3 linked regions of the Homo sapiens genome follow. The protein of the gene in region 3 purifies or fractionates together with the protein of the main gene of each other region. This does not show direct contact. Each region holds a gene or a part of one and is shown on either strand. Other genes may lie near its edges.

Region 1 (5,190 bases), on a different chromosome or scaffold from region 3:
TTCAGCCTGTCTCCCATGGAAATAACCGTTTGGAACGTGTTTCTTGTTCTGCTATGACATTTGGAGAGTTGATACTTTCTGAAATATGTAAAGATGAAAAAGTAATAAAATATGTAAATCATTTCTACCCTGCTAACTGGCATTTAGGCAAGCCTCTAAGCATCTCTGGGCTTCAATTCCTTCAATTGTTGGATGAAGAGTGTTTTTGGTTTGTTCGTTCTTTTTTTTTTTTGATAGAGTTTTTGCTTTTGTTACCCAGGCTGGGGTGCAATGGCGCAATCTCCGCTCACTGCAACCTCCACCTCCCAAGTTCAAGCGATTCTCCTGCCTCAGCCTCCCAAGTAGCTGGGATTAGAGGCATGTGCCACCACGCCTAGCTAATTTTTGTATTTTTAGTAGAGACAGTGTTTGACCATGTTGGTCAGGGTGGTCTCGAACTCCTGACCTCCAGTGATCTGCCCGCCTCTGCCTCCCAAGATGCTGGGATTACAGGCATGAGCCACTGCGCCCGGCTGATAAAGAGTCTTGACTAGACAATTTCCACATGTTTAGTTTAGCTAGTATTTCAGAATCTTAACCCAAAATACTTATTTATTTTTATTATTATTATACTTTAAGTTCTAGGGTACATGTACACAACGTGCAGGTTTGTTACATAGGTATATATGTGCCATGGTGGTTTGCTGCACCCATCAACTTGTCATTTACATTAGGTATTTCTCCTAACGCTATCCCTCCCCCAGTCCCCCACCCCCCAACAGGCCCTGGTGTGTGATGTTCCCCTCCCTGTGTCCATTTGTTCTCATTGTTCAACTCCCACTTGTGAGTGAGAACATGCAGTGTTTGGTTTTCTGTCCTTGTGATATTTTGCTGAGAATGATGGTTTCCAGCTTTATCCATGTCCCTGCAAAGGACATGAGCTCATCCATTTTTATGGCTGCATAGTATTCCTTGGGGTATATGTGCAACGTTTTCTTTATCCAGTCTATTATTAATGTACATTTGGAAAAACCCAAAATATTTATTTAAAAAAATTTCTTTTGGCCGGGCACAGTGGCTCACGCCTGTAATCTCAGTACTCTGGGAGGCTGAGGCAGGTGGATTACTTGAGGTCAGGAGTTCGAGACCAGCCTGGCCAACATGGTGAAACCCCGTCTCTACTAAATACAAAAAATTAGCTGGGCATGATGGCGCATGCCTGTAATCCCAGTTACTTGGTGGGCTGAGATAGAAGAATTGCTTGAACCCGGGAGGCAGAGGTTGCAGTGAGCCAAGATCAGGCCATTGCACTCCAGTCTGGGCAACAGGAGTGAAACTCCATCTCAAAAAAAAAAAATAGAGACAGAGTCTCACTGTGTTGCTATATTGCTCAAGCTGGTTTTGAACTCCTGGCCTCAAGTGATCCTCCCACCTTGGCCTTCCAAAGTGCTGGGATTAGGGCATGAGCCACTGCACCTGGCCAAGAATCCAAAATACTAAATTGTCTCCTTGTGCCTTTTATTATTGATGTACAATCCCTCTAATTAAACAGATTATGCTTATTTTTTGGTAATAGTTTGTAAACTAGGTGTATTTTAAATTTGAGATTATTTTATTTTTTAATTTTTTTCCTAAGGGCAAGGAGATGTTAGACACTAGACAGTAAAAAAAAAACTTCCAGTTGAGATACTGTCACTATTCCATCAGACCAAATAGGAGTTTTTATTTAAAAGCTTTCTGTGAGGCTGGGCGTGGTGGCTCACTCCTGTAATCCCAGCACTTTGGGAGGCAGAGGTAGGAGGATCACTTGAGGCCAGGAGTTCAAGACCAGCCTGGGCAAGACCCTGTCTCTACAAAAAAATGTAAAAAAGTAAAATTAGCCAATTGTGGTGGTCTGCACCTTTAGTTCTAGCTTACTTGGGAGGCTGAGGTGGGAGTATCTCTTGAGCCCTGGAGTTGAAGATTGCAGTGAGCTAAGATTGGGCCTCTGTACTCCAGCCTGGGTGACAGAGCAAGACCCTGTCTCTAAAAATTAATTTTTAAAAATAAAAAATGATTTTTTATGTAGGTTATAAAAATAATATGCTTGTTTTTAGAAATTTTTTTGAGAAAAATGTAGAAGCATAAAGAAATATGTAAGAATTATCTGTAGTCTCTTCTATTTAGGGATAATCAGTAAATAGTGCTGATTATTATGGGGTTGTCACCTCCATTTTACATAAGAGGAAATTGAGGTATAAAGAAATGAAGTGCCATGTTCAAAGTTTCCTGGCTGGTAAGTGGCAGAGCCTGGATTTGAACCAGGAAGCCTGACTTTAGAATCTGCTCCTAATTGCTTGCTGCATGAAGAAGATAAAGTCATACATTCTAGCACCCAGAGCTACTCTATAAAACTTTTTAAAATTGTTGTAGATGTTTTTGTATTTATATTAGGTATATAGATGTTGTTTTAGTGAATTTTGGTTTATATGACATGAATACTACCTCCATGTCAGCATAGGGTTTACATTTTAAATGGCTGCATAGAATTCTCTTACATGTTAACGAAAAGGAAAACTGAGAGATGGCTTGGCTATATTTTTATTTTAAATTGCATTTTTTTCTTTCTCAGACCTCTTAGGGATGAATTGCCATATTCTCTATCCTTTTTCCTCTCAGATAAAGTTGTAAGTAAAATCTTGCTGTAAATGTAGACGAGATAAATCTGTTCTTCTTTCCACTCTTCCTCATTGTCACTCTAGCCTCCAAATTCTGCAGTCACTTCTGGTTGGTAGGTAATTCATACAATGCTGCCATTATTTTTTATTTTTTATTTTTGACACGGAGTCTCGCTCTGTCACCCAGGCTGGAGTGCAGTGGCACAGTCTTGGCCCACTACAACCTCTGCCTCCCAGGTTCACCTGATTCTCCTGCCTCAGCCTCCCAAGTAGCTAACCGGCATGTGTCACCACACCTGGCTAATTTTTGTGTTTTTAGTGGAGATGGGGTTTTGCCATGTTGGCCAGGCTGGTCTCCAACTCCTGACCTCAGGTCATCGGCCTGCCTCAGCTCCCAAAGTGCTGGGATTACAGTTGTGAGCCACTGCGCCTGGCCAGTGCCATTATTTTTGAATGGCATTTTGCCACTTACTTTTTTCCTAAGTATCTTTAAAGGAGACTGTCAAGCTAGTCAAGAACTTTGTCTTATAGCCAGCATGTGTCTTGTTTTAATAGAAATGGAAGGAAAGCATCCTTAGATATCCTTTTGCAGAAGCCAAGAGAGGCTGTGATGTTCCTAAGGTTATACAGTTAAGAGAGTCAGGGTGATGAGTAGAAGGCAAGGGACAGAGTTTTGGGAACCAGCCTTTTTTTTATAGGAAGGTGGGGAAAAGGTAGAATGGTGAAGGAGTTGAGAAGCTTGAAGACCTAGGAAAAGCCACCATTGTCATGAAAAATAATTTTATGAAAATGTTGGTAGTTTCTGCCAGGTGTATCTTCGAGGTGAAGAGTTGCAAAAAGGACGTTCGATTTAGCCATTATTGTGCTTTAATATCCCTGTTGTCAGTATCCCTTTTGTCAAGAGACAAAAGATAAATACACTTGGTAATTTAGGACATGTAAAGTTACACAAAATAATAAAAAGTAATCCAGCAAAAAGAGAAATAATCAAAGATGCCTTGGAGAAATAGATTATGACTCAAGTCAATTCAAGAATAAATTAATTAGCATTGAGAAAATACTGCAAGCAGTCTTAAGATGGTATGTTACCACTGAGGGTATCTTTTCCATTTATAACATCTGGAAAGCCAAAGACTGAGATCTTATATATTTTTTTTAAACAGGTGATAAATACATGTCTGGTGTTAGGGGCTAATTCTATCCTCTGTAAACACTGGACACAGACTTGTTTTCATCTGCTGGAATGTGAATTCTAATTCTGAGAGTATTTTATGTGCGAAAGGATTGGCAAATAAAATTATACAACTTTCAAAACTCTTCATTTGCTCACTAAAAATATGCTTACCTTAAATGCCTGTTTGTACACTTTGGTGCAAGGAAAATTTTGTAATTGTGCTCTTAATCCTTCAGCTCACCTTCTTCTCTGCATTTCAGGTTGTATCATCCTCTCTTCCCTCCCTTAGTCGCTTGAGGTGGTAACTGGGGTCTTGCTCTTATGTGGGGCTGCTATAAATGATCAGGCATATTGTCACAGAGGCACATCAGGTTTTTTTTATTTTTATTTTTTTGAGACAGTCACGCTCTGTCGCCCAGGAGGGAGTGCAGTGGCACGATCTCAGCTCACTGCAGCCTCTGCCTTCCGGGTTCAAGGGATTCTCCTGCCTCAGCTTCCCCAGTAGCTGGCATTGTAGGTGTGTGCCCCCATGCCTGGCTCATTTTTGTATTTTTAGTACAGATGGGTTTCGCCATGTTGCCCAGCCTGGTCTTGAACACCTGACCTCAGGTGGTGCACCCATCTTGGCCTCCCAAAGTCCTGGGATTACAGGTGTGAGCCACTGTACCTGGCCTCACTTTTTAAATAAGACGTTCAGTCTCGAAAGAGATTGACTTCTTCAGGGTCGTACAGATAATCATGGATAAAACTAACGATTTGGACTGAAAATTTTCTTGGTGATTCCTTAATGAATTTACATCTTTGCTTTTCCAGCAGTGAAAAGGAAGAAGACGATAATGAAAAGAGACAAGATCCAGGTGATAACTGGGAAGAAGGTGGAGGTGGTGGTGGAGGTATGGAAAAATCTTCAGGTCCCTGGAATAAAACAGCTCCAGTACAAGCACCTCCTGCTCCAGTAATTGGTAATTTTACTATTTCAGTTTCAGAAAGATGTCTAATTTATATATGATTTTATATATGGTCCACTTTCAACTAAGTGCATGATTGTGGTAGGGTGAGGAGGAGAGGCTCCTTTCCATTCCTGGTAGAGTGGGATGTGTATATATCTTGTTAAAGACTTTAAAATCCTAAATAAAAGGAATCTGGAAGTTAAAAGACATGCTTTTGTCCTGTATGTTGCTGTAAAATTTATATAGATATAGACTAGTCGATTCCAGTTTCATTTATTGGAATTGAGCATTTCTTCTAATATTCTCGTTAAATATTAACTACTTGCTAATGGAGGAAAAGGTAAGGAAAAGACTTTAATTTACTAGAATCCAAGGTCAGCTTCATTTAGGATTTTTAGTGGTAACTACCCTAGGGTTGGGTTTAACTCCA
Region 2 (5,190 bases), on a different chromosome or scaffold from region 3:
GCTTGGTATTTCCTATTTCTGCCCCACACTGAAAATAAGGCTCAGAGTGCACCAAGACAAAGAAGGATAAGAAGAGCAAAGTACTAAACCATACATCATGCACACAGTTCCTTTTTTCCCTCCCCATATTTTCCCAAATTCCTTAGCTGGAGGCAGCATGGTATGATGGTAGGAATGGCCCAGGTCAAATCCTGGCCAGTGTGTGGCCCTGGGCTAATTCCTCTCCACGCTGGAGCGCAGTGCCCTCCTCTGTACAGGGGGATACCTCCACCTACCTTGCAGAGCTGTAACAGTAAATGCGATGGTGGCACTAGGTAAGGTGCTTGGTGCCTGGCACACTTTAGACATTTGGTAAAAGTTCATTAGTATTTCCAAACAAAACTGTTAAGTGGTTACTGATGTATAATAAAGTCAACAGAACAATCCCTTCCCAGCTGGAGAAACGGAACTCTTCCAGTTACAATACCCTACATGAGAGGGGAAAATGCTGGTTGGTGAAGTAAGGTGGTCTAACTATGTATTGAGAGCACCACAGACTGCTCTCAAGAGAGCGCCTGCAAGTAATTTGATCATTATATTCTGACCAAAGAACATAACATAAGACACATACAATATGATTTAAACAAATCTGATTTTCAAATCTGCTACATCAGTTATGAGGTACATAGACTGTCAAAACAAACAACAAAACTAAAAGAATCATTTTAAGACAATTAAAGGCTTTATAATCTAATAAAAAGAAAATTTAACCTCTATGACAAAAAAGACGTTTCTTCAATAAATACAGTGTAAGAATAAAGGGGGGGAACCTATATTTTAGAGACTGGCGTTATATAAACCAGTGAAATGGACTTTCTTTGGATCTTGTTTCAAACAATTTCTCTTTTAAAAAGAAGCTGATCCAAAAAATTTGAATAGTGACTAGATACTTAATATTCAGTAATTGTTATTTATTTGAGACAGTCTCACTCCCATCACCCAGCCATGAGTACAGTGGTGGTGATCCTCCTGCCTCACTCTTCCGAGCAGCTGGGACTACAGGTGAGTACCACCTCACCCGGCTAGTCTTTGTATTTTTTGTAGAGACAGGCTTTCGCCATATTACCAGGCTGGTCTCGAACTCCTGGGCTCAAGCAATCCTCCTGCCTTGGCCTCCCAAAGTGCTGGGATTACAGGCGTGAGCCATTGCACCTGGCCTATTTGTTAATTTTTTAGGTATGAAACTGGTATTATGGTTATACTTAAATCCTTACTTTTTTGAGCTATACATTCAAATATCAATGGAATATTTGACATCTTGGATTTGCTTCAAAATAATCTAGGGGAACAGAGATGAAATTATCAGCCATGTACAGTGGCTCACATCTACAATCCCAGCACTTTGGGGAGCCAAGACAGGGGGATCACCTGAGCCCAGGAGTTCAAGACCAGCCTGGGCAATTTAGCAAGAAACTGTCTCTATACACACACACACACACACACACACACACACACACACACACACACACACACACACACGGAATTACGGTTTCATCTGCTGAAGCCAGGTGCTATATTATCTCTCTACTTTTTGTTAAGCTTGAAATTTTCCATAATTTTTTTTTAAAAAAAACAAAAGGCAGTAAGAAAAATAAAATCTTTAAAAAAAAAATAGCAGTTTTTGAAGGGCTGTATGTAAAACTATAAAGTTTGAGTTGAAAACAAGATAAAGTAACACACAGATGCCTGATCTTTTTTTTTTTTTAATTTGAATCAGCTTTTTGAATCCATTTCTGTAAGGAACATAACATAACAAGCCCAACATTTTACTAAATGTTAAAAGGCAGAGATGCACCATTTAAAAAAACCTAAAGCCTCTAACCCTGTCCATCGGCCCTCTAAAAGTGAGGAACTTGAAAAACCAGGTTAGTACCTTCTAGCAAATAGGTACTAACCTGGTTTTTCAAGTTCCTCGCTTTGTTCAGAGGACACTACCTCTGAACTTCCAGATTAGCTTATAAAATAATTCCAAAAGTCTTCATTGAAGGCCAATGGCCAAGTTCATTAGCCATGGATCTTCCCAGTAAACTTTTTACCCTCAATGGGCTTATGTGTGAGGGGTTAGAAGGGGTTAGAAGTAGGTTTTTCCTCCCAAATAATATAAAGCCCTCATTTAAAAAAAAAAAATCTGAAACATTAACTGTACAAGTATAATGCAATGGTAGTGGATACTGTAGAGATTATCATAGATGTCTGAGATACAGGGTATTTGGGGCCCAAATATTTATTCACTATTAGTCTGGATAAGGGAAAACAATCTACATGCGAAAATTGCAATCTTCCAGTATTTCATGGAAGACAAGCAGTACTTAAACGGGTCTCCTAGAAATAACCTCAAATAAGTCCCAAACCCAGTGACTCCTGGGACATCAAGTGATGATCTCATTTGTGGTGCCTGATCGTTTCCTAATAAATAACCGACTGCCACTATGCATATGCAAAGTTCTGAAACACCCGTGACAGCAGTTTTACTTTAGGTATGAATGGTGACACTTTTGCTAATCTTGAGAAGCCGTTTAAATAAACCAAATGCCATTACCTCTTCCCTCAGTGCGTACTGTTCGATGAGCTTCTTTAGCTTCTCCCCCAGCTCAATGTTTTCCTGTCGGAGTTTGGCGTTGTGGATGTCATGCTGCTCCAGCTGGGCTTGAATTTCATTTAAGGTAATCTGGAAATGTGCAGTTGCTTCTTTACGTCGTTCTTCTTCCTCTCGTGCCTGCTGCATATTTTCCTCCTTATTACCCAAAATAATTTTTGTTAATAATACAGACCTATAGAGAAGATGCTCACAAGAGAAGCTGCTGCAATGTGGGTTCATTTGTTGCTGCCCTGACGTGTTGCTTCTGAACTACAATTCCTCCCCCTTATTTATGACCAGAAGGCTATCACTGAAAAGCAAGCAGTTTTTCCTAAGTAGACAGATAACCAGAGAGATGCAAACTGTCCTGCTACAAAATAAATGTTATGGCTGTCTACAATTCACTCTACTGCAATACTCGCCGGTTACACAGGCCATCATCTTAGATGGGTCGGAAGAGATCCTGCCCCCTTGCAGCTTACTTTCTGGGTCACACTTACTCCCTAAAGGGCAAAGGACAAATGGAATCCTCATCTCAAAAAGCTTCCTTTCTGTAACTACTTTCTGATGATTAAAAAGAAAAAACAAAAAATTCAAAGCTTACTTTCAATTCTTGCTAGGATATGAGTGTCAAAAGACCTTTACATGTCTGAACTGTTACCAGCCTACTCAAAATATTGATTTCCTATGGGAAAAAAAAAATACCACTTACTTTGACATCTAAATCCAAGGGCTCAAAAGCAAAGAAGGTAATAATGGCTCCCATACCAGGTGAAGATCCATTTCAAGAGTGCACTTATAGTCTAGGGCCTTGGGAGTTTGTTGGGGCATAAAGGGAGTTTATTGGGGCATAAAGGGCATAAAGGGAGTCTGTCCCATTCTAAGAGGCAGATTCCTTCCCACGGCTCTGCTCCTTTCCTTCTTCCCCTGTTGATATCAATGAATCTTTGGATACCTATTCCCTCTTCCTTTACAATCAGCCAAGGTATAAGTGGTTTCCTAAAAGTACTTAGCAACTGAATGGCTGGGGGTGGGCCAGTGGAACTGGGCAATGCTCCACCCAGGAGCTCAGCAGTTCTCCCTTCCCAGACTGTCTGTTACTAGTTTCTCATTTCACTGCAGCTTTTCCTACTTGGTGATCAGCTGTATCAGTGCTCAGCAGAAAACTGGCAATTCTGAGCTTCCTAAGCCATGGCTCTAAGCAGGAGGGCCTTGAGCGTAGATTCCCGGGAGCCAAGTATGAGGCAACTAAGGTGCTCTTCCTTGAACAGGAAACCAAAACTTACGTAGAAAGAATTGGTCTTACATTTACAATGACCTCACACAAGGCATCAGGCCAAGCAAAATAAAAAGCAAGGCAGTATCTGTCTCCAAGTAGAGACAAGGATTTATTTCAGATAGGCACAGGGTTGATTATGAAATCAGATAAGTCCCTCCTGAAAAAAACAGACAAATGAAGCAACTAACCTTTAACGTCTTATTGTGACGCTGAAGTTCTCTGCAAAGAGATTCTAGCTTGCTTCTTGCCAAGATAGCCTTGCTATGTTCACTCTGCAAGTGAACTTTCTCTTTCACAATCTGGGCTTGCTTCTTCTGCAGGATCTTCATTTGCTTCTGAACACTCCTGCTCTCCTCCAGCTAAAATTCATAAGCACTTTGTATTTAGGAAGTACAGTAAAAATCTTACAGTTATGGCTAGAATTATAATGAGAGCTATGGAACACATTTTCAAAAAGTCAAATACTATGGTTTAATATATTATTTAAATTGTTTCATGCCATGCTACACTGCCACCCTTCTCTTCTCTCCTCTTCCAGTTGTGACAAAAAAGTAAGCAAATTTAGGGCAGCAGAAAATAATCCATCTTTTTCTTTTTTAAAAAAAAATCCTTTAGACAGATTTAATTTTCACAACCCTTTATTATCCAGGTTTTATAGAAGAAATGTATAAGCCTGGAGACATTAATAAGTTGCCTAACATTCTTTAATTAGTACAGATAATCAGTAAGGGGTGAGGTGGGATTTGAACCCAGCAGCCTGAATCTCTGGCTTTCTTGACTTCCGTATTGGCCTGCTATCCCCTGGGGTCCTGAATTTTGCCAGCTTTCTGACTTCAGACACTGATCACAGATCTTCTCCCTGCTTTCAACCCAACAACTCACAAGCAACATGGGCTCCTCAACTTCCAGCTATGATCTTGTGCTTTTTGAAGGATGATGCCCTTCAACTGGATACCTCCTGCCCCTGAATTTTCCTGGGCCCACTGGGAACACTGCCCAAGTATTCCAGCCTTAACCCTTTGGAAAATAAACCAGCTCCAGTTCTAGCTGAAACCTACTCCAATGTTGAAGGCCAGGAGTGACTCAGTGCTAAAGCCAGGCATGTCCCGAATTGCTGTTTGCTGGGTGAATGTCTGTCTAGATCATTTCCTACCTGGCAAAAAACCCGCTGAAATCCAAATATTTTAACAATCAATTTATTGTGCTTTGGGGTTTTGATTTTTTTATTTTCATTATCATTTTTTTAGATGGACTATTATTCTGTTGCACAATCTCGGCTCACTGCAGCCTCCAC
Region 3 (5,190 bases):
TTGGAGACAGAGTCTTACTCTGTTGCCCAGGCTGGAGTGTGATGGCATGATCTTGGCTCACTGCAGCCTTTGTCTCCAGGTTCAAGTGATTCTCATGCCTCAGCCTTCTGAGTAGTTGGGATTACAGGGGTGTGCCACCACACCTGGCTAATTTTTGTGTTTTTAGTAGAGATAGGGTTTCATCGTGTTGGCCAAGCTGGTCTCGAACCCCTGACCTCAGGTGATCTACCCACCTCGGCCTCCCAAAGTGCTGGGATTACAGGCGTGACCCACTGTGCCTGGCCAGTTTTGAATTTTTTAACTTAAAAAAATTGCAACTTTTATAATATTTTATGTTTTATAATGAAAAAATGTAATCCTATTGAATGTTCCTCTGAGCATAGCTTTAGCTATATTACTTAAATTTTGATGAGTAATATTTTTATGTTTATATATTTAAAAACCCCTGCAGTTGCAGTTTTTATTTTTTCAACAAGTATTTAAGCACCTGCTCCATCTAGACATTCTGCCAAGTGCTGAGGACACAACTATGTACAAGACAAGGTCTCTTGCCTTCATCCAGTTACAGTCTGTCAATATAGACAAACCAACGAATAAAGAATTTTCAGATTTCGACAAGTGTCTAGGAAGTAAATAAATAATAGAAGGTGCTAATTGGATGATCTGAGACTGTCTCTCTGAGGATGTCATGTTTAAGTTGATTGGTGGTACCAAGGTGTGTATGGGAGTTTCTTTAGCTTTCCCAATCTATCGAAACATAAAAAAAAAAAAAAACGGAGTCTCACTCTGTTGCCCAGGCTGGAGTGCAGTGGTGTGGTCTTGGCTCGCTGCAACCTCTGCCTCCTGGGTTCAAGCAATTCTCCTGCCTCAGCCTCCTGAGTAGCTGAGATTACAGGCATGCGCCACCATGCCCAGCTAATTTTTGTATTTTTAGTAGAGATGGGGTTTCACCACGGTGGCCAGGCTGGTCACAAATTCCTGACCTCAGGTGATCCACCCGCCTCAGCCTCCCAAAGTGCTGGGATTACAGGCGTGAGCCACCACGCCCAGCCGAAATGACTAAGTTTTTTTGGGAAAATATTTTGTGAAAATTGCTTTGCAGGCCTGGCTGAGATCACTTGATGTCAAGAGTTCAAGACCAGCCTGGCCAACGTGGCGAAACCTCATCTCTGTTGAAAATACCAAAATTAGCTGGGCGTGGTGGCCGGTAGCTGTAATCCCAGCTACTCGGGAGGCTGAGGCAGGAGAATCACTTGAAACTTAGAGGCGGAGGTTGCAGTGAGCCGAGACTGCACCACTACACTCTAGCCTGGGCGACACAGTGAGACTCCATCTCCCAAAAAAAAAAAAAAAAAATTGCAAACAGTTTGAAGCCTCTTCCCCATCTTCCAGCTGGATTGCTGCTCCAAAGCTTGTCCTGTGTAGAAAATTTGGAACTTTGATTCTGAGTTCTAAAATCAAGAAGTTGAAGGTAGTTTCCCATGTGAAGAGAACTGCTGGCACAAATGGTACATATGCAAAGTGCTTGACTTGACTTTGAATTTGACAGAAGATTAGAATGACTGGTGTTTACTGAGGGAGGACAGTGGGACAAGCTTTGTTTCAGGACTTGTTTGGGAGACTTTTATTTTTTATTTCCAAATGGTAGGGCTGCTTCCACCCCTCCTGCCTTCCTATGGAGTTTTGATTTTGTAATCCAAATCAGTCTCCTACAAATAGCATATATTATTTTACCTCTTGTTACTTTTCTTCATTATTTCTACTGTTTTCAGTTTTCTCTACTCAAGACCTTTGCATATGCTTTTGTTTTGCTTAGTTGTGATTTCCTTGAGGAATCCTTCCTTGATGCCACAAAATAGGTTAGGTCTTTCTCTTGGCTTCATGGGCTCATTTTATATTGGGCTTTTCTTTCATAAACATTTGTAACAACTCCAGTTCATTAAGTTTGTGTGAATTGTTTTAGCATCTATTTCTTCTTCCAGAACCATAGTCTGGTAGCTACCATCCACTTGTGGCTATTTAAATAAATTTAAATTTAATTTAATATTAAAAATTCAGTTCCTCATTTGTATTAGTCACATTCTAGGTGCTCACTCAGTGGCCTTATGTGGCTAGTGGCGATTGTGTTGGACAGCAGAGAGACAGTCTTCTGCAATAATAGATACTTATCTTAATTTATAGTCCTGTGGCTAATGGCTACCATATTTTATTTAAATAGTCACATCTGACTATTGAGATATGGCAAGTCTGAACTGATGTATTAAGTTTGAAATAGGAACTTGATTTCTAGTACCAAACAATGAAAATATCTCAATTTTTAAAATATTACATATTGAAGTAGTGATATTTTACATGTATTGTGTTAAAATATACTATTACTGTTAATTTTATTTCTTAATTAAAAAAATTTTTTTTTCTTGAGACGGAATCTTACTCTGTTGCCCAGGCTGGAGTGCAGTGGCACAATCTCGGCTCACTGCAACCTCTGCCTCCTGGGTTCAAGTGATTCTCCTGCCTCTGCTTCCCAAGTAGCTGGGACTACAGGCGAGCACCACCGCGCCTGGCCTGTTTTTTTTTTTTTTGTTTGTTTGTTTGTTTGTTTTTGAGACATGGTGTTGCCTTTGTCGCCCAGGATGGAGTGCAGTGATGTGATGTTGGCTCACTGTAGTCTCAACCTCCCTGGCTCAAGGGATCCTCCCACCTCAGCCTCCTAAGTAGCTGGGACTACAGGCGCGCCACCATGCCTGTATAATTTTTAAAAATTTTTAAAATTTTTTGTAGAGATGGGGTTTCACTGTGTTGCCCAGGCTGGTCTTGAACTTTTTTTTTGAGATGGAGTCTCGCTCTGTTGCCCAGGCTGGAGTACAGTGGCACGATCTCGGCTAACTGCAGCCTCCAGCCCCCGGGTTCAAGTGATTCTCCTGCCTCAGCCTCCGGAGTAGCTGGGATTACAGGCGAGTGCCACCACGCCTGGCTAATTTTTGTATTTTAAGTAGAGACTGGGTTTCGCCATATTGGCCAGGCTGGTCTCGAACACCTGACCTCAGGTGATCCGCCCACTGTGGCCTCCCAAAGTGCTGGGATTATAGGCGTGAGCTACCGCGCTCAGCCGGTCTTGAACTTTAGAGCTCAAGTAATCTGTCTGCCTTGGCCTCTGAAAGTCTTGGGATTACAGGCGTGAGCCACCGTGCCCAGCCAATTTTTAAATTTCAATGTGACTACTAGGAAATAGAAAACCACATGTGGCTCTCATTATGTTTCTGTGAGACAGCACTGGTCTGACTCGACCATAAGTTTGTACAGTGGTAGGGACTATATCCATTTTATTTACTGTGGTATCTTCAGCGCATAACAGACGTTCAAAAGATTTGGTGAATGAATAAACTAACTCTGTTAACTTTTGAATGTTATTGCATAGTTTACAGAGAATGTTACCTATTCAGCTTTTGCTTTTCAGAATTGTTTTCTTTGTGACTGATTAAAATGGTTGAGAAAAGCTCTTTCAGTAACTATATAAAGAATGAGTCTTCGTCTTTTATGTAATATTTTATTTATTTTTTTCTGGTTTAGGCCTCCAAGGAGAGAGAGAATTTAAAGTTGGCCAGTCTATTTTCTCTTAGTTTTTCTATGTCTAGCACTTTTTCTTAGATGATCTATGATATGTTGTTTGGCACATGAAAATTTATGACTTAAAATCTTAATAGTTGAGTATTATAAATGCCTTCTCTTTTATTTTTGTCTCACTATTGTGATCCCTGTTTCTTTTTATTTTGCATTAATCAGTGACCTTGTTTATCCCTTGAGACCTAAAACAAAGCAATGTACTGTTTTTTTGTAGAAAGATACCTTATCCTATCGGCTTGGTTTATGCTTGCTTATTTGTATGTTTCCTTAATGTTTCCTTTGTGTTCAGTGTTTGACCTCATATGCCATTCATTCAAACTCCCCAACTCCTCATACACACCTTGTAATCTTTTCCCTAAGGAGTCAGGAGAGATACACCAGGAATTGCAGGCTCAAATATATCTTACTTTTGCCAGGGAAATATTTTTTTTATTTTTTGTTATTTATTTATTTATTTATTTATTTAGAGACAGAGTCTTACTCTATAGCCCAGGCTGGAGTGCAATGTCTGCTGCCCGGGTTCAAGCAATCCTCCTGCCTCAGTCTCCCAAGTAGCTGGGATTACAGGCACCTGCCACTGCACGAGGCTAATTTTTGTAGTTCTAGTAGAGACGGGGTTTCACCATCTTGGCCAGGCTGGTCTTGAACTCCTGACCTTGTGATCCACCTGCCTCTGCCTCCGAAAGTGCTGGGATTTACAGGCGTGAGCCACCACACCTGGCCATATTTTTTTATTTTTTATTCCCCATTGAGGTGTTTTTCAGAGTTTATCCTTAGTGATCCCAGTTATGTTTTGCTAATGTCAGGGTGGTCTTTTTATCAACTACTACAATAAACCACCAGTCGTGCCAGAGAAAATGCCCAGGATTAATTTCTTTTGTAGGAAGAGCAGTTTGAACTATATGGAATCCTTCAAAATTCTAAGAAAGTGTTTGCCCTGTTCTGTATATATTCTGCCAAAAGTTGTTCCTAATAGTCTAGATATTGATTCTTTATGTAAGTAGGGTCTTTTTAATCAAAAGTGAAGTGGGACCAAATTGTTCAGTGGCTTGTTCTCTTCTAAATTGTTTTTAGCTGATAAGATTTGGGAAACTTTCTGGGCTTCCACAAATAATATACAATACATCTTTGAATACTTGATGCTTAAAAAGTGTTGTTACTGCATGCAATCAGGGAGCTCCAGAGCTTTTTGCAGGCTCCTTGTTCCTGAGAAGCAATATTGTTTTCATATTATCTCGGTTATACATTTTATGGTTGTGACATTGCTTTCTTTTTGTTTTTGCTGTTGTTTTCTGCTGCTGCTGATTTAGAAATGAAATAAGCTAACTCTTAATTTTAACCTGTTTGCTACCTAAAATGGTAATCATCTTGATGTTCTTTCAAGCAGGTCCCAGAGATCTTAAAATGATCCGGAATCACTGAGTCCACAGTTCTCTTTTCTCTTGGTTATGTATAGATGGAGAGTGGTCTTGGTGTTATATTAGTGTATGATTCGTATTTGTTTCATAATTAACTTCGAAGTGAAAAATTGATGCGAGAGCAAAGGTTTATTTGGTTTCCATAACT

Evidence for each region. Proteins that work in one complex are often made in the same cells at the same time.
Region 1: the proteins of ZFAND6 (region 3) and CDV3 fractionate together in Homo sapiens (co-fractionation; one large-scale study listed by BioGRID). This does not show direct contact.
Region 2: the proteins of ZFAND6 (region 3) and TXLNG fractionate together in Homo sapiens (co-fractionation; one large-scale study listed by BioGRID). This does not show direct contact.

The regions. Positions count from the first base shown.
Region 1 is NC_000003.12:133,579,379-133,584,568, forward strand, and holds part of CDV3 (protein CDV3 homolog), read left to right. Parts: intron 1-4,623; coding exon 4,624-4,772; intron 4,773-5,190.
Region 2 is NC_000023.11:16,827,159-16,832,348, reverse strand, and holds part of TXLNG (gamma-taxilin), read right to left. Parts: intron 4,256-5,190; coding exon 4,085-4,255; intron 4,033-4,084; exon of another isoform or gene 3,384-4,032; coding exon of another isoform or gene 3,330-3,383; intron 2,774-3,329; coding exon 2,579-2,773; intron 1-2,578. UniProt on the Homo sapiens protein: May be involved in intracellular vesicle traffic. Inhibits ATF4-mediated transcription, possibly by dimerizing with ATF4 to form inactive dimers that cannot bind DNA. May be involved in regulating bone mass density through an ATF4-dependent pathway.
Region 3 is NC_000015.10:80,065,561-80,070,750, forward strand, and holds part of ZFAND6 (AN1-type zinc finger protein 6), read left to right. Parts: intron 1-5,190. UniProt on the Homo sapiens protein: Involved in regulation of TNF-alpha induced NF-kappa-B activation and apoptosis. Involved in modulation of 'Lys-48'-linked polyubiquitination status of TRAF2 and decreases association of TRAF2 with RIPK1.